Regions from separate parts of the Homo sapiens genome. Here region 2 is linked to region 1. Evidence: fine-mapped expression QTL. A gene starts in region 1. The other region holds a variant in brackets. All regions are shown on one strand. Distances are between the middles of the regions. Region 1 holds the start of TP73 (tumor protein p73). Region 2 overlaps TP73 (tumor protein p73).

Region 1 (11,821 bases):
CCCTAATGTGTCCCCCATGTCCCCTCCACGGTCCCTGCTCCATGAGACCTGCCTTCCGTGCCCTTGCTCTGGCCCCAGCAGGGCCCTTCCTGCCACCTGGTCTCTCCAGGCCTCACTGGAGGCCACCACTGGGACGGCGTCTCCTCTCTGTCCAACTCCCTGAGAGGTGCCTCTCCAGACCCTTCCGCGCAGACCGATGTCCCCCGACCTTCTGTAGCACCCACGGCCAGGTCCAGGGCTGGGGCCCGGGTCTCGCCTCTCCCGGTGGGGCTTCTTGTTCAATACCTCTGGTTTCTGTCCCTAACTGGGGGCTATGCGGCCCAAGCAGTCCCCAGGTAGAGGAGCTGCTGGAGTGTGTGGAACAGTCTGTTTTCCAGGATGCAGGGGCTGTGGAGGAGGCGCCAGGCGGGAGGTGCTGGGGGAGAGGGGGGCTGCCCATCCCCGGCTGTGCCCAACCCCGACCTTCAGTGTCCGGGTTCCAAGATCCTCGTCCTGAAAAGAGGGGCGTGGCTTAGACCAGGTTTCTTCCCCGTTTGCGCCATGGCCCCTCTGGCAGCCTGGGGAATCTCAGACGCCTTGTCCGGGAGAATGTTTTAAATACATGAAGCAAAATACACAGGATCACGAGTTACTGAAACATAGCCACTCTAGTGGGTTGGATGCAGCCTCTGGGAACGAGCCTCAGAATGGGATGTTATTTGGAATCAGGGTCTTTGCAGATGCCACTTAGGTAAGGGTCTCAAGATAAGATCATTCTGGATTTTCCAGGTGGGCCCGAAATCCAAGGACAGGTGTCCATCTAAGGGACAAAAAAGGAGAGACACACAGGGACACAGAGGAGAAGGCCATGGCAAGATGGTGGCAGAGACTGGGTGGTGCATCTGCATGCCTGGGAACCACAGGATGGCCGGCAGCCCCCAGATCCTAGGAGGGAGACAGGAGGCGAGCCCCCTCTCAGAGCCTCCGAGGGAACCCGACCCTGCCCACACCTGGCTTCAGATTCCTGCCTCCACAACCGTGAGACAACACTCTCTATTGTTTCCAGCCACTTAATTTGTGGTCATTTGTAACAGCAGCCTGAGAAAACTTACAAAGTGACCCTAATATTTAAAAAGCAAAACTGGGAGGTGATCATATGTGCGCTTCTTTGTTCATACATTAAGTCGTAAGCCTGAGAGCAGATCTAATCACCGCCATAATTGCAACGGAGCGACAAGCACAAACCACTTTTTAAGATGCTGCAGCTATTACCGGACACCATGAAAATATCAGTGGTTCCCACTGGTGAGGTCACAGGTACTGCTATGACTGTAGTTTGCTGCCTACATTCAAAACTAGAGGAAATGCTGAAATTTGCTTTGAGGTTAATACAAGGTGCCATTTTTCCCCATCCAGGCTCACAGCACCCTGGACTCTCTACCCCTGGCTTAGATGTTCTGGAAGGGCCCTTCCGGCCTGAATGTTCCACGGTCCTAGGTGTCTGGGGGCCGTGTCTGAGCCAACGGCAGACCCAGGCAAAGGATGGTTTGGCAGCCCCAGTCCCAGCTTCGTGGTCATAGCTGGAGTCCCCACTCCCGTACTTTGCAGCTGTGTGACCCTGTGCAAGTAGAATAGCCAGTTGAAGCCTCAGTTTCCTCATCTGTAAATGGGCATAATTATAGTATCTACTTCAACGGGCTATTGTGGGGATTACAGGGAAAAAAATGTAAACTTTTTAGCCAAGTACCAGCTCACAGCCACCATGGGCTAAATGTGAGTTATTACAGGAAACATTAAAAAACAAGAGTTGGGCTGGATTATCTTTTTCTTCTTTGGGTCTGTGATGTGCAACTTGTCCAGGAAAAGAAAGCACTTTGGATGAGCGAGTGTTTAGCCTGCAAAGAAATACTGAGCACAGAGTGGACTGCCAGGGGGCAGGCAGAAAGTCTGTAAACATGTGCATATGTCTGTCTGAGCCCACTTTGGTATAAGCTGTCTTACACTCAAATGCCAATGAGCAGAGGGATTTTTTTTTTTTTTTTTTGAGACGTAGTCTCGCTCTGTCGCCCAGGCTGGAGTGTAGTGCGTGATCTCAGCTCACTGCAAGCTCCGCCTTCCGGGTTCACGCCATTCTCCTGCCTCAGCCTCCTGGGTAGCTGGGACTACAGGTGCCCGCACCACGCCCGACTAATTTTTTGTATTTTTAGTAGAGACGGGGTTTCACCGTGTTAGCCAGGATGGTCTTGATCTCCTGACCTCGTGATCCACCCGCCTCAGCCTCCCAAAATGCTGGGATTACAGGCGTGAGCCACTGCGCCCGGCTGAGTAGAGGGAATTTTTAGAATAAAATACCTTCTGCACGACCCACAGAGAAGGATTTTCGAGGCATCCTGTGTAACCCACTTAAGAAGGCAAACTTCTAAGAAAGCCATTGTGTGTTTTCATTATACACGAGTGGATGTTGCCAGCTACAAGTGTGTTTTGTGTATTTGTTAAAGGAATCTGGGCAGAACATGGAAGTATTAAATACTGGTAGGAGTAAGTGATCACTCAGCCTACTTACTGGTGATAAAACATTACATTTAGAAAACTTTCACCACATTCAGATACAAATAACACGGGAATTCAAAAGAAAAGTAGGCGTTATTGTCATTTAGTAACTCATCTCAGCTTTTTTCTTTTTTGCTTTTAAAGCAAAATCACGAGGAAATAACATACAGATATCTTAAAAGGTTGCCTTAGCCCTCCCCACACTGGAAAACAAAGGCAAGCCGCAAAATGGCAGCTCGTTACATGAAACACACACCAAAAGTATTTTTTGCGTGTTTTTTTGAGACAGAGTCTCGCTCTGTTGCCCGGGCTGGAGTGCAGTGGGGTGATCTCGGCTCACTGCAACCTCTGCCTCCCAAGTTCAAGCGATTCTCCTGCCTCAGCCTCCTGAGTAGCTGAGACTACAGGCACCAGACACCACCCCCGGCTAATTTTTGTATTTTTGGTGGGGACAAGATTTCACCATTTTGCCCAGGCTGGTCTTGAACTCCTGATCTCAAGTGATCCACCCACCTCGGCCTCCCAAAGGGCTGAGATTACAGGCGTGGGCCACGGCGCCTGGCCTTAAAGGATGTTTTGAAGACTTTTTCTGACTTTTTGCAAACACAGGGTTCACCGTGTACGCGATGTCACTTTGGTGTGCTCGGAATCTCAGGGTTAATACCGCCGCTGGGCAAGGGCAGGGCCTCGTCCGGGTTCTGGAGTGGGTGTGCGGCTCCTCTCTCGGCCCTCAGCCTCTTCTCTTCTCTCCACTTTAGCCGTGCCTTTCACACGTGCTCAGTGTTATCAATCCATTCTTGGACCTGGGTGGGGCATGCCCTATAAATAAATACTAAACCAGGCATCCTTGCCCCAGTGCATACTTCTGACAGATGCCATCAGCTTCCACCCACGCCTTGGGCAGATGCCTGCCTCACTGCCATCCCTCCTGCCCTGGAGATACCTACCAGATACTAAGGAGCCGGGTCTCTCCCCAGGGCTCCTGGCTCTCCCAGCTCTGGAACAGCACCTGGGACCCGAAGCCATCATGTGTGAGGACACTGAGTGGGTGCCAGGCACTCTCCCAAGCCCTTCGGACGGCACCTCACTGACTGTTCTCCAAGCCTCTGAGGCAGGAACTACTATTACCCGACTCTGCAGATGGGTAACCTGAGGCTCCAAGTGGTTAAGTGACTTGCTGGAGTAAATGGGGAAGAGGAGATTTGAACCCCAGCATTCTGACTTCCATACTACCCCATTAACCACTGTGCCAGACCAGCTTCTCCATGCGACTGGCCTTCGGGATTTGGAGACAGCTACTGTTCGCTGTAGCTTTCACGAGAAGGACTGCAAGGCAGGGCTCACATCCCGAGCCATTCTCTGGTGGCCGCCGCGCATAGACAAGCCCCGCTCAGGTCCGCCTTCCGTTCACCCCAGGCTACCTCTGATTGACAATAGGCAGCTGCCACACTGCAGCCTCTGACACCAACTTTTATCTTATTTCATCTTATTTTTTGAGACAGAGTCTTGCTCTGTTGCCCAGGCTGGAGTGCAGTGGCATGATATCAGCTCGCTGCAACCTCTCCATCCCAGGTTCAAGCAATTCTTGTGCCTCAGCCTCCCGAGTAGCTGGGAGTACAGGTGCCTGCCACCATGCCCAGCTAATTTTTGTATTTCAAGTAGAGACTGGGTTTCACCATGATGGCCAGGCTGGTCTCGAACTCCTGACCTCAGGTGATCCACCCACCTTGGCCTCCCAAAGGCTGTGAGGGATGACAGGCGTGAGCTACCGTGCCCAGCCAACTTTTTATCTTATTTTAAAAACTACATACGTAATGCATACATTCATATATGGCAACATTTCAAACACCGTGTCCTGTTCTTAATGAAATGCTTTTTAATCTTTCCCCGAATAAATCCAAAGAGGGGTGGCTCAGCGCTCAGTAAGTGCCAGAGGCCACGCGCTTTGTTTACTCCTCCCCCAGAGCTAAGGCTGAACAAATAAACAGCAATGACAGCAACAAAAAACAAAACAACAAAAACCAAAGCATTGTGTTAATGAGCCTGAGCCATTTCCAAATGTCCAGACAGTGAATAAACAGATGGCAGCATCTTTGGAAGCAAATGACCTCTGGTCAGAAGTTTGGGGTGCATTGCTTTTCCCTGCACCCTTGCTGGTTGAAGATCGTCTATCTGTCCCCTGTTTATGTAGCAGACGTGTGCATACTACATGGGCTTATCTCCTAGCGTCCAGGCCAAAATACAAGCTGAGCAAAGGTAATCATCGCTCCCCAAGTCCAAGCCCCGGGAAAGGCAGGGGCTGCAGGAGGAGGCGGCCCAGGAGCTAAGGGGGCGTGAGGTGTCTCCCTCCAGGCCGGCCCGGGCCATTTCTTCACGGGCTTTCTCTACCTGGGACCGCTCCGGAGACAGGCCAGGAGCCCTCGACAGACAAACTCAGAGCCACAGGGAGCTGTCCCTCGGGAAACCATCGAAACCGCTTAGTAACCAACTCCATGGGTCAAGGCCCCCGCCCAGATCCTTCTCCCTGTCCAGAGGGGGGCCTGGCCCTGGCTCCTCAGGGAAGCTGAGGCCTCGGGATTGGCACAGCCCTGCAGGTCGGAGGGAGCGCGCGGGCGGGGAGGAGCTTGCTGGCGATTTCCACCTGCACCCGCGCCCCGCACCCCGGCCTCTTCCCGGGGTTACCCTCCCAACGGCCCTCGGAGCCCGGGGTGGAGAGGGGACAGCAGGAGGAGGGCCCTCCCGGAACCCCTGCGGGGCTGTCTTTGGCGCCAAAGGCGGCCGGCGCTGAGGGCAGGACCCGCGTCTCCTCGCAGGCTAGACTCTGGCCGCTCCAGCCTCTCGCGAGCGCCAAGTCCCAGGGGCCGATCCAACTCCGAGGGAGCCCCTGTGTCGCCTTGTCCCAGCTCGTCCCCGATCGCTCTCCCCTCACCTCCCAGCTTCGGAGCTGCGAGCCCAGGTGCCTGCCCAGCGCTGCGCTCCAGCCCCCGCCCGCGGAGCCGAACCGCCCCCCGGCCCTGGGCCTCCTACCTGCAGCCGTCGCAGCCCCGGGCATCGGCGTCCGTCCCGGCTGGCCTGGCGCGGGCCCCGGTTTCGCTGCGTCCCCTTCGCGGGCGCGCGAGCCTCCGGGCGGGTGCGCGGGCGGGGAGGCAGGGCGGGCTGCCCGGCCCCTAGGCGGGTTATATGGGCGCGGGGAGGGGAGGCGCCGCGGGGAGTAGGCGGCCGCGGGCGTTAGCGCCTTTTTAGCCCGGCGCGCGGGAAGGCAGCGCGGGCCACCGAGTCGCGGCGGGGCCAAGGTCTCCTCCCGGCGCTCCGCCTCTCCAGCTGGCCGCGTCCAAGTCGGGGTCCCGGGCGCGCTCTGCCCCGCCTCCTTCCCGCCGCCTTTTGGCGCGCGTCGCTCCTGCAGAGCCCGGCGAGGCCGCCCACGCAGGGCCGAAGCAGGTCCGGCGCCAGGGCCCCTCCCGCGGGCCAGACCCGACCGCGATCTTCGGCAGAGCTGGGGACGCCGGTGCCGACTCTGTGCCCGACGCCTGCGTTTCCCCCGGACTCCCTGCTGTCCCCCAGACGGCCCATCTTTCCTGACACCCGGGTCTCTCCTGGCCGCCGCCACTAGCGCTGGGCTCCTCGGCGCGCGGGGCGCTTGGAATCCAAGGGGCAGGGGATGTGGCCGGCGGGGAACAGGGGTGAGGGGCGGGGAACAGGGGTGAGGGGCGCCGCCCCAGGCCCAGGAGGAGGGGAACGGCTGCTTTCCGCCAAGCAGGGCTTGCCACCCACTTCTCCTGTGGAGCCACGGTCCCGCCCGGCAGAGGATCCCGCGGAGAGCCTCTGGGGGCTGCTCTCCCAACCCCAGCCGGAGTTTGGGCCCCACGTCCTTCCAGGGGTCACCCAGGACGCGAACACTCCCGGGCGGCGGCCAGCACCCTGCTCCCTCCCCCGGCCGCCGCCTGTGGGCTCGGGCTCTGGATCCCGTTCGGTGTTTGGAAGGAGCTCGCGGGCGTCGGTGCGCTTGGAGTTGTTCTCTGCGCGCACCAGACCTGCGCTAGGTCAGGCCGAAGCTCTCTACCGGCCAGCGACACCCGCCGCCCCGCCCGCCTGCTCCTCCTAGGCCATCGGGGCTTCCAGGGCCCTCGACCACGTACACCAGGCCCTGGCTAGGGGACCCGACATGCTGGGCGAGTTCCGAGCGGCTCTCAGTGGCGGCGCTGCTTATGGTCTGATGCTTATGGGGCCCGTGATCTGGCTCCGAACCGATGTCCTCTGCCCATGGTGACCCCCACGTCTTGGAAAGTCGCGTCAGTGAAGCCCGTGGCTTCGCGAGCGAGCCGGGCTGGCGCAGACTGGGTTCTCTGGCCGCAGCGGGTCCGCGCCTGACGGGGAGGGTCCGGCTGACTCGCACATCTTCATGGCTCACCCACTGTTTGCTGGGCGCACGGGGTGGGGACCCAAAGACGAATCCCATGCAGAGGTTTGGGTCTAGTTTTGGCAACAGAAAAGGCCGGCACCGCCGGAGTAGGACGCGCGCGCACCACCATCCATTCGGCCGGGGAGGTTGGGGCGTCCGCGGGGAGCAGACCCGAGGCTGGGCGCCCGGAGGTACGAGCAGGACCCTGGCCGGCTCTCAGCTCCCAGAACCCAGGGCCAGGCGGGGATGTCAGGGTCTGCGCGATCTGGGGGGCCCTAGAGGCGCCGGCGGGGCCTGGCGCGGACTACTAGCGGCCTGCGGGAGCCAGGGGTGGAGGGGGCCGCTGTCTAGGGAAGAGGACCGGGGTCCGGAGTGGGGGTGAGAACGAGGCACGCCCCTGAGCCTGCGAAACCTGCGGACCGAGCGCCCGCGCAGGAGCTCGCTCCCTCTGGGCCCCCAGGTCCCAGACCCGCACGATTCTTCGCCCGGTGCCAGCCCAGATGCGCGCGGGTGATGAACGGGCGGTGGCCGCGATCCACGCGCTCGCTCTGCCCAGTCAGCGGCAAATTCGTTCTCTCCTTGATCTCAGTGGCACTGGAGCGTGAGGCAAGGGCCAGGCGGCAGGTAGAGGGGTCGGACTCAGCAAAAGCAAACAAAACCCCAAGCAAACGAAATAAATACTTATACATTACATACACGATATAATATATGTGCGACAGACACCGTATTACTTATTAAAGATATATTTGTAGGTAAACATATATTTACATGTAAACATACATTTACATATAAATATAAATATATATATATGCATGTGTACACACACGCAGACACACAGGTCGCTCAATTAAATTTGAATTTCAGACTAGCGAGTAATTTTTCCGTATTAGCATGTCCCGTGCAATATTTGGGAACATACTTATAACTAGATTTGTTGTGAATCTGAAATTCAAATTTTACTGTGCTTTCTACATTTTTATCAGCAGCCCTAGCTGGAGGTGCTCAAAGGCCTCCCGGCCTTTGAGGTAAGGTTCTCGGGTCGGAAATCCCTGGTCGGAAGAAACGTGGGCGTTTCCTTTAAAGCCCTGCGGCACAAGAACTACAAGCCCCACAATGCCGCGCGGAAGCCGGCGGCGCTGATAGGCTGCAGTTCACTTCCGCCTTCTGACTTCCGGCCTCGGAGGCCGGCGTCGGCTGTTGCAGCCTGCTGCGCGCCCAGGGGTCCCGCGGGTTTTCGGGCGCAGGGTGGCGCCCGCGGCAGGCGGCGGCCATGAACTTCTCCGAGGTATTCAAGCTCTCCAGCTTACTCTGCAAGTTCTCCCCGGACGGCAAGTACCTGGTGAGCGGCGGGGACCTGGGCCACGGGCAGGACATCCTCGGTGCCAGCGTCCCCGGCGGGCAGGGCCGGGGGCGGCCGCGTGGGTGGAGGCAGCTTGGGGATCCTGCAGGTGCGGTGCCCGGACAGGTGCGGGGCCCGGGCAGGTACCCGGGGCAGGTGCAGTGTCTGAGCAAGTGCCCCAGACAGGTGCGGGACCCAGGAAGATACCCTAGACAGGTGGAGGGCCCGGGGAGGTGCCCCAAGCAGGTGCGGGGCCCAGGCAGGTACCCCAAGCAGGTGCGGGGCCCAGGCAGGTACCCCAAGCAGATATGGGGGCCGGACAGGTGCAGGACCCCGGCAGGTGCCCGGGCAGGTGCGGGACCCAGGAAGATACCGTAGACAGGTGGGGGGTCTGGGGAGGTGCCCTTGGAAAGGTGGGTATCGGCAGTGCCGACTGCACACAGGTGAGGGTATAGGAGATGTCGGCTCTTTGTTGTTACTTTGTCACAAAAGGCAAATTGATGATTCTGTTGCCTGTAAACTGGTAAGTGGTGTGGCTACTTTGTCATCTCTACTTCTCCTCTAATTCTCTTCTCCTCTACCACATGCCGAATAAATGATTTAAATACTAGTATTCTATCCCCAGGTAAGGAAGTAGTTGTCCTCATGGCTGGGATTTGAGGTCTTCGTTCCATGGGTGGCAGAAGGGTGCTTAAATCACAGAGCTATAACTTTAAGCTTCAAAACATATAGTGTATGTACCTGGATGCCTAGTAGTGTATATCCTCAGAAGAGAGGGATAACCCGGATGCCTAGTATGTATGTCCTCAGAAGAGGGGGACAATTGGCATTGGAAAGCCACTAAGAAGAAACATGCCTCGTAAAAAGTGGGCTTCGTTTTCCTTATCCACCACCTGTACTAACTGACTGATGTATCATGATGCTTTTTCAGGTTTTGCCACTCCTGACATTCCTGTGCTCTGTCTAGCTTTTGAGAGTTTAACTCTCAAATTACGTTTTTTACCTCTTCAGGGAGGTTTTATTCCAAATCACATAAAATAGCATCAGCTACAAAACAGAAAACCTCATTAGTTTAAATGGCATCTCAGCCTTGGTATATTTTCAATGTGCCCCCCTCCTCAATTAAATGAGAGGTTTGTTTTTTGTTTTTACCATTTATGAAAATTTCAGTGAATTATAAGGAGAAAGATTACATCTGCTTGCTTAACTTGGGTGTTTTTTTCCAGCTTGTACACTCTGGTCAAAATACCCTGAAACACTTGGTAATGATCTGTTACTGGAATCATCTTCTTGAAAGCCCTGAGGACTGGGGAGAGCAGGTCCATGTTTCTAGTTTTCATATCTTGCAGTAGAGTTTATGTGGTTCCTCAAGGTGTTGGTAAAAATATTCCATTTCATAAGGAATTCACTGTAACTGATCACAGTTTTCAAAGCTACAGTGTGAGAAAGTAAGTGCTGTGGTAGCTCCTTGTTCCAATCTGCCGTCACCCGCCTGTCTCTCTTTTCTCCCACGGAAAACTAACGTGGCTTTCTTTTTTGATATCGGTTCATAAAACACAAACTACTTTGACCTTGATAAGTAAAACTAACGAAGCAGTTAATATTTAAACATCAGTTCTTGATCTTGAAACTGTAGTAAAATATACATTCAGCAGGTGAGTACTCAGGCGTTATTTTTACTTGAAATTGTTTGCTTGGATAGGGACATAATGAACAAATATGGACAAGAAGAAACTATCTTTAAGAAAATAGTACTAACACTTAAACATTTCCCGTTTCGTGTTAGGAATAGGTTAATGGAGATAAATGAGCATTTGCGAAGCATCTTTATGTGTGCAGAAGTGAAAGCCTGTCTTTTGATCTTCTGTTGTTTTGGCTCTGAGTTCGGCACTGCATAAGAAGATTGATGCATTCCTTGCCATTTTCGTTGTCATCTGTGAAGCCTCAATTCTTACCCTTTATAAATTTGAGGAAATTGTCCAAAAGTGTTTATAAAACTAGCAGAGGATTTTGGTTATTAGTTCACAGAAGAGCTTTCTCCCAATGCTACTTCCCATTTAAGTTTAGTTTTTAACATACAGATAAGAAGGGACTTAAAAATGTCTTAAAGCTTTAAGTAGCGAGTTAAAACATACTTTTATACTTTACAATAGAGTATAGCAATATTAAAACCTGGCTTGTATATTTCAACATTACCCTTGTATGAACTGAACTGATCTTTAGGGGCTGGGGATGTCACTGGTGATCTAGACATGAAACCTCTGGCAGGAGAGAAGGCCACAGTCACTGAAGGCCAGGGCAGTAGCATTCCGAAGGCCCCCCTCTTTTGGAGTGGAGAATGTCAGGTGCTTGCTTTCTCATATTTTTTAGGCTTCCTGTGTCCAGTACCGGTTAGTGGTCCGGGATGTGAACACCCTTCAGATCCTTCAGCTGTACACGTGCCTAGACCAGATCCAGCACATCGAGTGGTCGGCAGACTCGCTCTTCATCCTGTGCGCCATGTACAAGCGAGGGCTGGTGCAGGTGTGTGCTGCCGTGTCGCTTAGAATCTGGACACCTTCTGAGGGCCCCTGGGAAGGAGGGGTTTTGTTCTGTGCCTTTCTAGTTTGAAAAAAAAGTCCGTGCAGCTCAAAGCCAGTTTTCTTTTGAAATTATAACGTTCTCTAAAGTTTAAGAACATTTAAACTAAGGAAACTCCAACGTAGTCTTAATTTCTAAGCAATATAGTTGAGAAACGGAGGTGTTGACAGCAATCTAGCCACGCGGATGTGGTGTGTTTCAGGAAGTCCTAAGAAGTCGTGTTTTCTTCTGTGTCCAAAGCTTAACTAAATGAGGTCTTAGGAATGACAATGTGAATAAACAGTTTTAAAACAACAACGAAATGAAATCACCAAGAAGCGTGGCTTACTTTTACACTGGAATCCAGCACCAGCCCTTCATCATGAAAGGTTCTAAAAGACACCCTGTGTGATCGGGTCTCTGCTGGTTTTAAGGGAGTTGTCTCTCGGCGAGGCCTCGCTATAGACTGCTGATGAGTTTGAAGACACCCTGTGCGGTCGGGTCTCCGCTGCGTTTAAGCGAGCTGTCCTCGCTGTCTCTCGGTGCTGATGAGTTTGCACTTGTGTGTTTCTTTCTTCTCTCAATCCAGGTCTGGTCTTTAGAGCAGCCCGAATGGCACTGCAAAATAGACGAGGGCTCAGCCGGGCTGGTGGCCTCGTGCTGGAGCCCGGACGGGCGCCACATTCTCAACACCACGGAATTCCATGTAAGTGTCAGCCCCAAGACACCTTACTGGCCATGTGATCCTGTCCTCTGCTCTCGAAACAGCTGGGGAGTGCGAGAGGGGGTGTGTTTGGAGTATGCTAGTCTCCCCTTATCCTCAGGGGATGCATTCTAAGACCACCAGGGGATTCAGATTGTACCAAACCCTGTATTTCCTGTGTTTTTTCCTATACAGCATACCTGTGATACATTTAATTTATAAATTAGATACAGTAAGAGATTAGCAACAATCATAGTATAGAACAAGGATAACAATATACTGTTTATAATTG
Region 2 (11,395 bases), 25 kb before region 1:
GTAGGTGCTGTCTGGTTCCCTGGGGCAGGGAGAGGAAAATAGAAGCGTCAGTCCCCAGTTTGGGTGTCACCCCAATACCTCCCAGGCCCAGAGCTCAAGGCTAGCCTGAGACTCCTGGTGAGGCCTACGTCTCCTGCCCTTCCCATTCCCTCTCATCCCATCTCTGTCCTCCACCTGCCATTCCAGGGCTGCTGTGAGTGCCAGAGAGGCAGAGCCAGTCATGGGCTCTGTTATTCTGGGCCTCTGCTGGCCATGGGCCCTCTCCAGAGCTGGCCAGAGAAAAGAGTCTGAATTTTGGTCCTGCATCCCCAGGGAAGGCCTAGGGCAGCAGTCCCTCTTCCCTGCCCCTCCGACCCGCCCTGTCCCCAAGCTGATGAGGGTGGCTAAGGCTAGCCCAAGACTAGTGTGGAGCCACCTCTCCTGCTCTGGTCCAGTTAGTGCAGCAAGGGTGGTCGAGGCTAGCCCAGAATCCCAGTGAGGGTTGCCAAGTTTAGCCCAAAGTCTCAGTGAGGGTGGCTGGGGCTAGCCCAGAGTCCTCCCGGGGCCACCCCTCCTGCTCTGGCCCAGTTAGCCCAGCGAAGGTGGCTGAGGCTAGCCCAGAGTGCCTCCCAGGGGGGCCCCCAGCTCTGGCCAGCCAAGCGCACTCACAGAGAGCTCCAGAGGTGCTCAAACGTGGTGCCCCCATCAGGGGAGGTGGCGGTGGACTGGGCCATCTTCCCCACGCCGGCCTCCGAGGGCAGCTCGCTCTGCAGGAAGGAAGGAATGACACCTGAGCACCCTGGGAACTCGTGCTCTGTCCTCCTGTGACAGCCTCGGTGGGGGCGGCAGGCAAGTGGGCCTGCCTGGGGCATCCCTGGAGCAGGTGCCCCCGCCTTGCCCTCCCTGTGCCCTCTCCACTGTCATTTCGTCCACCCTGTTCCCCGCGGCTGGAAACCGAAGGCCAGGTGGGCAGCTCTGCCTTGGAGGTGGCGGGCCTGGATCAGACCCATCCGTGGGGGTGCCCTGGGCAGGCAGGAGCTTCTCAGAGCCGTCGCCTTGGAAGAGGGGGTGACAGCAACACCCGCTCCTGGGGCTGCCTTGAGGGCCTTCAGGAGAGCAGACTCTTTGAGATGCTTGGGCCGGGACAAGCGTGTGAGGCCTGTGGTCTGTTATGATCCACTGTGTCTAGGTTTGGCCTGGGGGATGCTTGGGCCGGAACAAGTGTGTGAGGCCTGTGGTCTGTTACGATCCCCTGTGTCTGGGTTTGGCCTGGGGGATGCAGCCAGGTTTGGGGTCTCCCTGATGCCCGGGACCTGGAGGTGGCTCCGGTCCCGGTCACCCCATCTTGGGAACAGCGTGTGTGAGGGCTGCGCTGGAGGCTGCAGCCAAGCCCCCGGCTAGAGCCTAGCTGTGCCCACTGCTGCAGGACACAGACGCCCCCTCGCCTTCTGAGCTGGGGCTCCTTCCTGCACCCCAGGGCCACAGGGAAGCCTGGCAAGGCTGGGAACTTGAAGCTGCCCTGTCCTGCAGCCGGCCACTGCCTGGGTGGTCACGCCTTGAGAAGGAGACACCCAGGGATTGGAGAGCTCTGACCCCAGCGCCCGTCCGCTGGTCTTTGTCTCCACCATTGCTCCCCTGAGAACCCCTGGGCCCAGCTCCCAGTGGCCCTGGACACCCATGAGGAGGTGGCAGTGTCCAGGCAGAGCACAGCTGGGGGAGGGGACAGGGAAACCCGAGCCCACCCTGCCCACAGCCCCCAGCCCCGGCTGAGGTGACCTCTCCCCTGGGCCAGCCTCCCAGGTCCTCGGTGAGGTGCTATGGGACAGGCTTGGCCACCGCCCTGCAATGCTCAGGCAGGCAGGCCTGGACCTGCCCACGGCCAGCGGGGGTGCAGGCCATGGCCTGGAACCTGTCGTTTTTGTCCTTCCCCAGGCAGGCGGGAGCTGATAGAAGCCTGTGGCTGCCACGTGCCGGGCCCTGGAGAAGTGGCACAGGCCAGGCTGAGGGGCGGTCCGTGAGCCATGATGGCCTGGGACAAGCAGCTTAGAGGGTGCTGGCCCAAGCCACCTCTCCCAGGTGGGCGTGACCGCTCCATCCACTTTTCAGGAGCCCCAAGGCTCAGAGGGGTTAAGTGACTTGTGTGAGGTCACACGGCTGTAAGTGCTGGTGATGAATGCTCCAGGGGCTCTTAGAATTAGAAGTTAATTTGGTTGCCCTGCCCCACCCCACTTCACCATCACGTGGCCAGGTGGGTGTGCCCTTGCAGGCCTCCGATCCTGGGCTGGGCTAAAACCCCAGTGGAGCTGAGGGTGTGCATGGGGACCGCACCATTCCGTTAATTTAAAATGGGAGAGTGTGACAGGAAGCAGAACCGCAGGTCCAGCTGAGGCTGGCACAGGGCCCCGGGGGAGAGCAGAACCCGCCCTTGCCCATACCCCACGGTGGGTCCCTTTGGGCTGAGCAGTATGAGTAGGGTAGCCTCTTGGTGCAGGTATGTGGGCCAAGGCTGGGTGGGCACAAGTGAGGGGTCCCAGGCATGTTTCCTGAAGGGCAGGAGCACTGGAGGGGCTGGACTCGGAGGAAAGAAATTCCCTTAGATCCAAGAGGACAAGCCTGGGAAGGTTTTGCCGCCAGAGGCCTCTGGGTCGCATCCCCTTCATTTTGTAGATGGGCCACCTGAGTCCAGAGATGGAAATGGACTTGCCATCCACAGCAGGTGGATGACAAAATCCCAGCTCCCTTCACAGCAGCACCATTCCTGGTAGCTGAACGGTGCACATAGCCCAGACGCCCATCAGCAGAGGGCCGGGCACAGGAGATGTGGTGCCAGCAAGCAATGGAACATTACGCGGCCATGAAAAGGAACGAAGCTCTGACATGCTACAGCGTGGGTGAGACCTGAAAACCTCATGCTCAGGACACATGACCTCATCTGTCAGCCTGTGAGCTGTCCCCTCCCAAGGCTAAGGTGGGACAAAGACAGAGAGAGACAGAGACAGAGAGACAGAGAGAAACAAGGACAAAGAGAGACAGAGACATAGAGACAGGGATAGAGACAGGAAGAGAGAGACAGAGAGAGAGAGACAAGGACAAAGAAAGAGAAAGACAGGAAGAGAGACAGAGAGACAGGGACAAAGAGAGAGACAAAGAGAGACAGAAAGAGACAGGGAAAGAGATAGAGAGAGACAGGAAGAGAGACAGAGAGACGGAGAGAGACAAAGGCAGAGAGAGACAGGGACAAAGAGAGACAGAGAGATACAAGGACAAAGAGAGACAGAGACAGAGACAGAGAGACAGGGACAAAGAGAGACAAAACAGAGAGACAAGGACAAAGAGAGACGGAGAGAGACAAAGGCAGAGAGAGACAGGGACAAAGAGAGACGGAGAGAGACAAAGGCAGAGAGAGACAGGGACAAAGAGAGACAGAGAGATACAAGGACAAAGAGAGAGAGAGACAGAGACAGAGAGACAGGGACAAAGAGAGACAAAACAGAGAGACAAGGACAAAGAGAGACAGAGAGTGAGAGAGACAGAGACAGGGAGAGACAAGGACAAAGAGAGACAGAGAGATGGAGAGAGACAGAGACAGAGAGACAGGGAGAGAGACAGAGAGAGATGGAGAGAGACAGGGAGACAGAGACAGACAGAGACAGACAGAGAAACAGAGGGAAAGAGAGAGGGACAGGGAGACAGACAGCGTGGGAGCCGACGGCATCCCGCCGCACCC[C/T]TACTGGAGGTCCAGGGGTTCCGTGAACAGGTGTGCACGGGGCATCCCTCCGCGCAGGGCTCAGGGCTCACAGGAACTGGTCGGCAAAACATGATTTGTGATCTTATGCCTGGGACATGGGCGTTGGCTGTATTTTCAAGTCGGCATCCTGTGAACTCCCCCTGAAGCGACACCCTCTCTTCCCACTGAACCCTGAATGAGGAACAGCGACCCTTCTTGTCAGCGCGCCTCTGCCTGCCGGAGACCCAGCTTCCACATCCCCTGACCGGCACCCACTGTGCACTGCAGGACACCAGCTTGGCCTCTCATCCCTGCCTGGGCACAGGACAGAGGCCAGCGAGCGTGGTCGTGGGTCCCCGATCCCACCCGTCCGGCCCTCCAGGCTCACAGGACAGGCCACCACCAGGAGCATGTGGGGTGGGAAAGGGGCTTCCTCCACGCCAGGAGTTGGGTCCCCAAACATCCCCAGGCCTGTTTGCCTGAGATGTGGGCAGTGGGCCTCCAGGTGCAGGCGTGTGGACCAGCCGGAAGCCCTGGGCAGATGCATCTTCCAGGACACCCCTCCCCACAGTGGGGCTGGGGCAGGGCCCAGGAATCTGCCCCTTTAACAAGCCTCCAGGGGAGTCATGAAGAGCCTGGGACAGGCCCCCTGAGGAGGACACTGTCATGAGGGCCAGCCTTGCCACTGCTCGGGGCCCTGCTGCAGCCACCGGCCTCCCCCATGGGAATCGGGTTCCTCATTAGCCAAAACCAGGACCCGGAAACCTGCCCAGACTTAAAGCACACGGAGGAACTTGAACCGGAAGCCACGAGATGCCTGATTCCCAACTTCCTGGGAAAACGCCAACGCTGGTAGCATTGGTCCCAGGGCCCCACAGGAACACTGCTCACAGGCACAGGCGCCAGGCAGGGGCTCCCCCAACCGGCCTCACACACCTGAGCTGATGACTGGCTCCGCAGGCATCTGGGAGTACTGGGCATGAGGAACAGGAAGCTCTGTTGGGGGTGCAGGGACGCTGCGCTGGGGCAGGGGGAGTATGTGCCCTCTGCCCACAGCCGCCTTTCAGGCAAGGATCCCAGTGGCGAGAAAAATAAGTCAATTCTAATAAAATGGCCTTTCAATTAAATCCAATTTTCCCAACCATTTGCCTTTTAATTTGAAAATTCGTTCACAAGGGGATCACGGTTCTGGGACAAAACAGAAATTGCTTTTGAAACGTTGCCAATAGTTTTAAAAATCATGTGTATCAATGGGGAAAGGAGACCAATTTCATAAGACATCTTTAGGAAGTTTTATCAACATCATAAAATGCAAATACATTATTGGAAGTGTAGGTTTTTCTAAGAAGATTTAGTCTAGGAGGGATGGGCTGGGTGCAGTGGTTCATAACTGTAATCCCAACACTTTAGGAGGCCAAGGAGGGAGGATTACTTGAGCCCAAGGGCTTGAGACCAGCCTGGGCAACACAGGGAGACCTCAGCTCTCCAAAAACTTAAAAAAATATTAGCTGGGCATGAGGGCGTGATGGCATGTGCCTGCAGTCCAAACCACGCAGGGTGCTGAGGTGGGAGAATCACTTGAGCCCAGGGGCTCGAGGCTGCAGTGAGCCATGATTGCACCACTGCACTCCAGTCTGGGCAACAGAGCTAGACCACAACTCTAAAAAAAAAAAAAAAAAAAAGGGAAGGAAGGAAATGAAATAAATGAGTTCTCAGTTGTAACAGGGGCGTCCAGTGTGTATTACCACAGGTCTTGCAGTGGAAGGCTTTGTGTGGCCACAGCATTTGGGGGTGGTCATTGGGGAGCTGCTGGCCGGCACCCCCCCAGCCCTGGCACCATCAAGTCAGGGCACAGAGTTGCAAAGGACAGTTGTGCTGGGTGTTCCTGGTTACGCTGTAGCCAGGCTGTAGGCTGCTGGCACACCCAGGAAGCAGGGCACCTCGACCCTGCCCCAACTTCCATGAGGCCTCAGACAAGTCCCCTCCCTTTGCCAGGCTGGAAAGGTGACCAGCGTTCCAAGTCCTACAGTGCCCACAGCAGTGGGAGCAGGACAAAGACCAGCCACCGAGGGCCCTCCGGCAAACCCAGACCTCAGCCTGCTTGGATCCTCAACTCCAGGGGCCGCTGTACCAGCTGCACCACAGGGAGAGCCCCCACACACGTGTGACTCAGAACAGGAAAGGAACTCACACCAGCAATTAGGCCCCCACAGCTTCCCCGGGACCCACGGAGCACAGGTGGGCTGGGGAGGGGACTGTGTGGCCCAGAAAACCAGCCTGCCCAAGCTCCCTGGAGCTGAAAACAAGGCTCTCTGATGACTTCTCGGTTTGACTCAGGGCCTTCTGAGGTCTCAGCCTAGGGGTTCTCACCAGGGGCAGTTCCACCCCCAGAGGATATTCCCATGTGGGGACATTTTCCACGGGGTCAGAGGGTGCTGTGGAATCTAGTGTGCAAGACAGGGATGCTGCTTAGCACCCTACGTTGCTCAGGGCAGCTGCCCACAGCAGAACGCACGCCCAGCTGTCGGGGCCGTGGCGGAGAGGGGGTGCTGTGCCATGGCTCCGAGCTGAGGCTGGCCAGGCACTTTGCAGGGCCTCAGGCTCACACGCCAACCCTGCCCCAGTTCAGAGATGAGCAAGTGGAGGCCAGGAGGCCCAGTGGCTGGCCCAAAGCTACTGAGGGCTGAGGAGCTGGGACTCCAGCCAAGCCCAGGTCCTCTGATGGCCTGGCCGCACCCGAATGCTCCCCTCTGCCCTGTGGGGAGGAGTCCGCAGCCGGTGAGGGGCTCTCAGCCTCTCTCATCTCACCCTGCCCAACCCCTCTGGCCTCGTCTTCCATAGCTTCCCACGAAAGCCACAGCCCCCTGTCCCCCTGCCCTGTCCCAAGCATTCCCTCCCTGTCCCCAAGCATCCCCTCCCTGTCCCCTGTTCCTCTGTCCTCTCCCTGTCCCCCTGTCTCCCTGTCCCCCATAGGTTCCTTCCCTGTCCCCTTTCCCTTTGTCCCCTAGCCCCCCATCTTCTATCCCCTCCCTGTCTGCATCCCTCTGTCCCCTCCCCATCTCCTGTTTCTCTGTCCCCTCCCTGTCCCTTGTCCCCATAGATCCCTGCCCTATCCCCATGGGTCCCCTCCCTGTTCCCTGTCCCTTTGACCTCTCCTTCTCCCATCCTCTGTCCCCGTCCTAGCTCCTGTTTCTGTGTCCCCTCCCTGTCCCCGTCCTCCTGTCCCCTCCTTGTCCCCCATCCTCTGTCCCTCCCCGTCTCCTGTCCCTCTGTCCTCTCCCTATCTCTTGTCCCCATGGGTGCCCTCCTTGTCCCCTGTCCCCAGTCCCCACATGCCTGGCTATGTGCTCTCTGTGTTCAGCCTTTGTCTACCACCCCCTTCCTGCCCTCCCATCTCATCCCTATCTCTCCAGGCCAGGCCAGGACCCAGCCTCCTCTAGGAACCCCGTCTCCGGCTGACGCCCCATCCTCTCCCCTCACCACCTGACAGGAGGTGGGAGACCAGACATTTCCTTGGCCATGGGCCCACAGGTAAGGCCTCGTCAGTTCCCCAACCCCTTCCACCTCTGCCCAGGCCTGGGGCAGACAGGGCTCCACAACCACCTTTGATAAGCCAGGACACTCCACCCCGACTGAGCCCACTCTGGAAGAGGCACTCCCCATGGGGACACCCACTCCCACCTGCAGGGGCCCTGGCCGCAGGGCTGCTGTTACCTACCCACCCCTCGGTGGAGCTCTGAGACCGAGCCGTCCGCACTCAGCCTGGGCAGGAGACACAGGCCCCTCTGCCCCGTCTGGCCCAGCCATCCCGGACACTGGCTCTTAAGGGGGATCACAGGAGGGGTGCAGGGTGTCCTCCTCCATTCAGGGAGGAGGGAAAAGCCCCCAGGAACTCCACCCGCCCCGGGCCACCCCTAAAGCAAACATCTCAATGCACTTCTGATTCCGGTGGTTCCCAAACCACCAATGATTTTACCTGTTATTTCAGCAGATCAACGATTCCAATCTGAAGTGGCAAAGAAACCTGGGGCCATTGTGGGAGGAGACACCTGGGCCATTGTGGGAGGAGACACCTGGGCCATTGTGGGAGGAGACACCTGGGCCATTGTGGGAGGAGACACCTGGGCCATTGTGGGAGGAGACACCTGGGCCATTGTGGGAGGAGACACCTGGGCCATTGTGGGAGGAGACACCTGGGCCATTGTGGGAGGAGACACCTGGGCCATTGTGGGAGGAGACACCTGGGCCATTGTGGGAGGAGACACCTGGGCCATTGTGGGAGGAGACACCTGGGCCATTGTGGGAGGAGACACCTGGGCCATTGTGGGAGGAGACACCTGGGCCATTGTGGGAGGAGACACCTGGGCCATTGTGGGAGGAGACCGTCTCAATCCCCTTGTGCCCTTTTCCCAGGGACTCAGGCAGGTCCCAGGACCCAGAACCCAGAAGAGCCCCCGCCTGGGCAGAGGGGTCGGGCGGTCAGCGCACCAGAATGAAGCCAGGCAGGCTGGCCCTGTGTGAGACAGCGGCTCTCCCAGGCAGCAGCCCAGCGGAATTCCTGCAGGGCGTCATCAGAGCCCAGCCTCCTGGGGCCCTCTGTGCCAAGGGGCCTCACTCTCCCCTCCAGCCACCGCAAGAAGAGGGGCCGCTCTCGCTTGGCAGGCTGGGGCCAAGGACAGGGGTCCCCCGGAGTGAGGGCCAGGAGGGCCTCCCTCTCAGGGGCAAGGCCCTCTGCCAGCATTGCCTGCCCCTCCCGACAGAGGCTAAGGACCATGTGGCCTCCCTCTGTGGGTACGATGGGGCCAGGTCCTTCAGACAGGGTTGCCAGGACGGCTTCGTCAGCAGGTCAGGGGCAGGGACGAAGGCCTGTCCGCAGGGCCTGGTGAGGAGGATGCGGCTGAGAGCCCCCCTCACCGCCACAGATGGCACGCCTGCTGCCCCACTCCCCTAGTTTGGGGAAGCCCAGCATGGGGATGAAAGACAAACACAGCCTCCCACGGTGGGGTAGCGTGCACCGTGTGAAATATGCGGACAGCTGGAGGTGCCTGAGCAAGCTGCCCTCTCTCTCCTGGGCCGTGGCCCACGGGAAGCGGGAGGGGAGGGGAGGCAGATGCCCAGGACAGTCTGGGGGAATCCCTGAGCCTCACCCCAGAAGCTTTGAGGCCATGACCAAACCAAAATGCCCGACCCCCCGTGGGTGGGGGTGCCCCCAACCAGCTTCCTGGGTCAGTTCACACTCAGCCAAGTGAAATGTAGAAACACCAAAGCATGGCTAATTCCCGGGGATTCCAGCCACCCCACGACGGCCCAGTGAGGCCACACACCTGTTACCAACCAGGAGACATGCACAGAGAGGGAAGACCAGCCCTCCATGGGCACACAGCTGGTCAGGGTGGAGGTCGAACCCAGCAGCCTGGCTCTACCCTGGCCTGACCTGGAGCTGAGCAAGGGAGGCACGGGCCCGGCTGCAATCCCCTCCCCAGTCCGTGTTCCCACCGCACAGCCACACCCCGCACCCTGCCTGGGAAGCCCCTCTCTGGAAATCCCCTGCCTGTCCATCTATCTTCACCGGTACATTGAGGCCCAATCCACATCCAGACATCCAAGAGGCCCGCCTTGTCCTCTGCTGCCTGCCCAGGCCTTCTTGCTGTCATATATGTGTTTGGGTCATACCAAGACACATGATTCCTGCCCCACCGCTTCGTGCCCTGAAGCCCAGCACTGCCGGGCACACACTCCAGTTCCCTCTCCTGCTCTGCCCACGCAGCCCACCTCTGCCGCGCTCTAGCTGTGTGACCTCAGATAGATGTCTTGCCCATTCTGAGCCTCTGTTTCCTTGTCTGTAAAATGGAGATAATTGTAGTGCCTCCTAGAAGCGCTAGGTGGAATGAAGTAACTCTACGCATATCAAAAGCGAAAGCACTCCTCTATCTGGGCACACCGTGGATGCCCCATAAACCGTATCGAGTTGCCATTGACCGACGGTTATTTAGTATCAGGTGGTGGCAGTGGAGGAAGAACCAATGAGGCCCGGGTCCCAAAGGCACCAGGCTGAGCGACAGAACTGCACACACGGGGGCGGAAAGGTGGGGTCTGCTGGCTGCCGGGTCCCTGGCTCCTTCGAGTGCCTCTCCATTTCATGGTCAGCACGCGTGTCTCACCCCACTTTTACAGTGGTCTCCGCACCCTTTTGCAGAGCACCAGCCTATCCTCAGTCTCTCAGGGAATGAGGCGTCCTCGAAACGGGTAGTGCCCAGTTGCAGCGGCAGCCGGTGCCAGCTCCATGCCCGGGGGCATGCAACGCGGTAAACAGATAACCCTGGCCCACTGGAGGCAAATCATGTATGTCTGTGAGGCCCTCAGAGGCTGGGTATGAGGAGGGTGGGTGGTGGAAGAGAAGTCTGCACCCCAGCCCCAGCTTGCTTGCGCCTTGGAGTGGGCGGTGCTCCTGGGGGTAAGCGGGTCAGGAGGGTTTGGAGGTGGGGTCAGAAGCATGAGCGGCCTGATGGGCTGAGCTTCCTCTAAGAAAGGGGTGGAAGGGGTGGGCAGGGACATGGCCCTTGGGGGGACGAGGTTGGCGGCAGGAGGGAAGTGGGGCCCTGTCAGGGAACTGGGGCGCTGAGCTTGGTGATGTTTCCTGCCAGGAGCCCACCTGTTAGAGGAAGGGCGACCCTGGCGGGGGTGGTAGGAGCAGATCTGTCACTAAGGGAGGTTCAGACCAGCACAGTGGGCACAGGAAGAAGACCCAGAGGACCGACTGCCAAGGATAGGGGGTGAGGGGTCCAGGGCTGGGACAGAGCGGAGCTTATGGCCAGAGTGGGTGTCTGAGTCGATACCTGTGTTCACAGGTGATGAGTACAGCGCTGCCCTCAGCAGGGCAGGTGACTGATGGGGCCGCAGCCGCCTTCGCTGGAGCTGCCACAGCCTCGTTCTGCACAGACACATCCCTGTCCTCTGCCCCCTCCGATCCTCCTCTCACACCCCCTTTCTACCCCAAGGGATCACACCGGGTGTCACTAGCCTTTGTGCGGCCAGCGCCCATGTTGGAAGTGCCTGTGCTGTCCTCCAGAATCTTCTTTCTTTCCCCAGAGAAGCACTTCCACTCCTCCAACCAAGAGAGAATGACCCTTCTCAAGCTGCTGTCCCCACCTGGCCACCCTCCTCTGGACACCCTTGGTGGGGATGCTCCACTCTGAGATGTCCCCACCCTACACATACCCCTCACCCCTGGCTCTGGGCTTTTCTCTAAGGGGTCTGGGACACGCCCGCTGCACCAGTGGACATGTCTCCCTGCTGACCACTCCCTACCCTGCGGTCTGAGCAGACGTGCCCTTCCAGACAGCTGTCAACTCCCTGAACTTGTCATGCGTCCCTCTGAGTCCCGCCCTGACTCAGTGAGCAATCCTCCCTCCTGGCGTGTTCCCTTCCTGTTCTGGAGTCAGCCGCTCAGCCCTGTGACCTCCCCTGCACAGTGGTGGCCGCTCAGCCCCGTGACCTCCCCCGTGCAGCGATCACGGGGGTCCACCCACCCCTCACTCCTTCCAGAGGCAGCCACTGCTGTTCCTCAGAGTGGCTGTCCGCTGGCTCTCAGGGTTGCCTTTCTGATATTGCTGCCCAGCATTCCCTGTGCCAAATCCTCCATATTTTCAAGCTCATTCAATCCTCAGAGGAACCCAGCGGGAAGTCCCC

The links.
Region 2: its variant is fine-mapped to the expression of TP73 in whole blood (TOPMed, PIP above 0.99). The same link has a PIP of 0.9 or more in blood mononuclear cells.

What each region holds. Positions count from the first base shown.
Region 1 is chr1:3,646,377-3,658,197 of GRCh38, reverse strand. TP73 (tumor protein p73) reads right to left here and starts at 5,682. Exons shown (of 14, transcript NM_005427.4): 1 at 5,557-5,682. It overlaps WRAP73 (WD repeat containing, antisense to TP73), which reads left to right and starts at 8,095. Exons shown (of 12, transcript NM_017818.4): 1 at 8,095-8,267; 2 at 10,638-10,790; 3 at 11,416-11,532. The coding sequence starts at 8,199. RefSeq lists enhancers at 970-1,069, 1,150-1,229, 7,031-7,874 and a silencer at 5,122-6,071.
Region 2 is chr1:3,671,684-3,683,078 of GRCh38, reverse strand. It overlaps TP73 (tumor protein p73), which reads right to left. Exons shown (of 14, transcript NM_005427.4): 2 at 649-746; 3 at 1-19. The coding sequence starts at 713. Among named protein-coding and RNA genes, the nearest start is that of TP73-AS3, 8.4 kb to the right of the region's middle. RefSeq lists enhancers at 1,655-2,390, 9,151-9,370 and a silencer at 2,680-2,847. The variant C/T (reference allele first, on the strand shown) is at 3,707.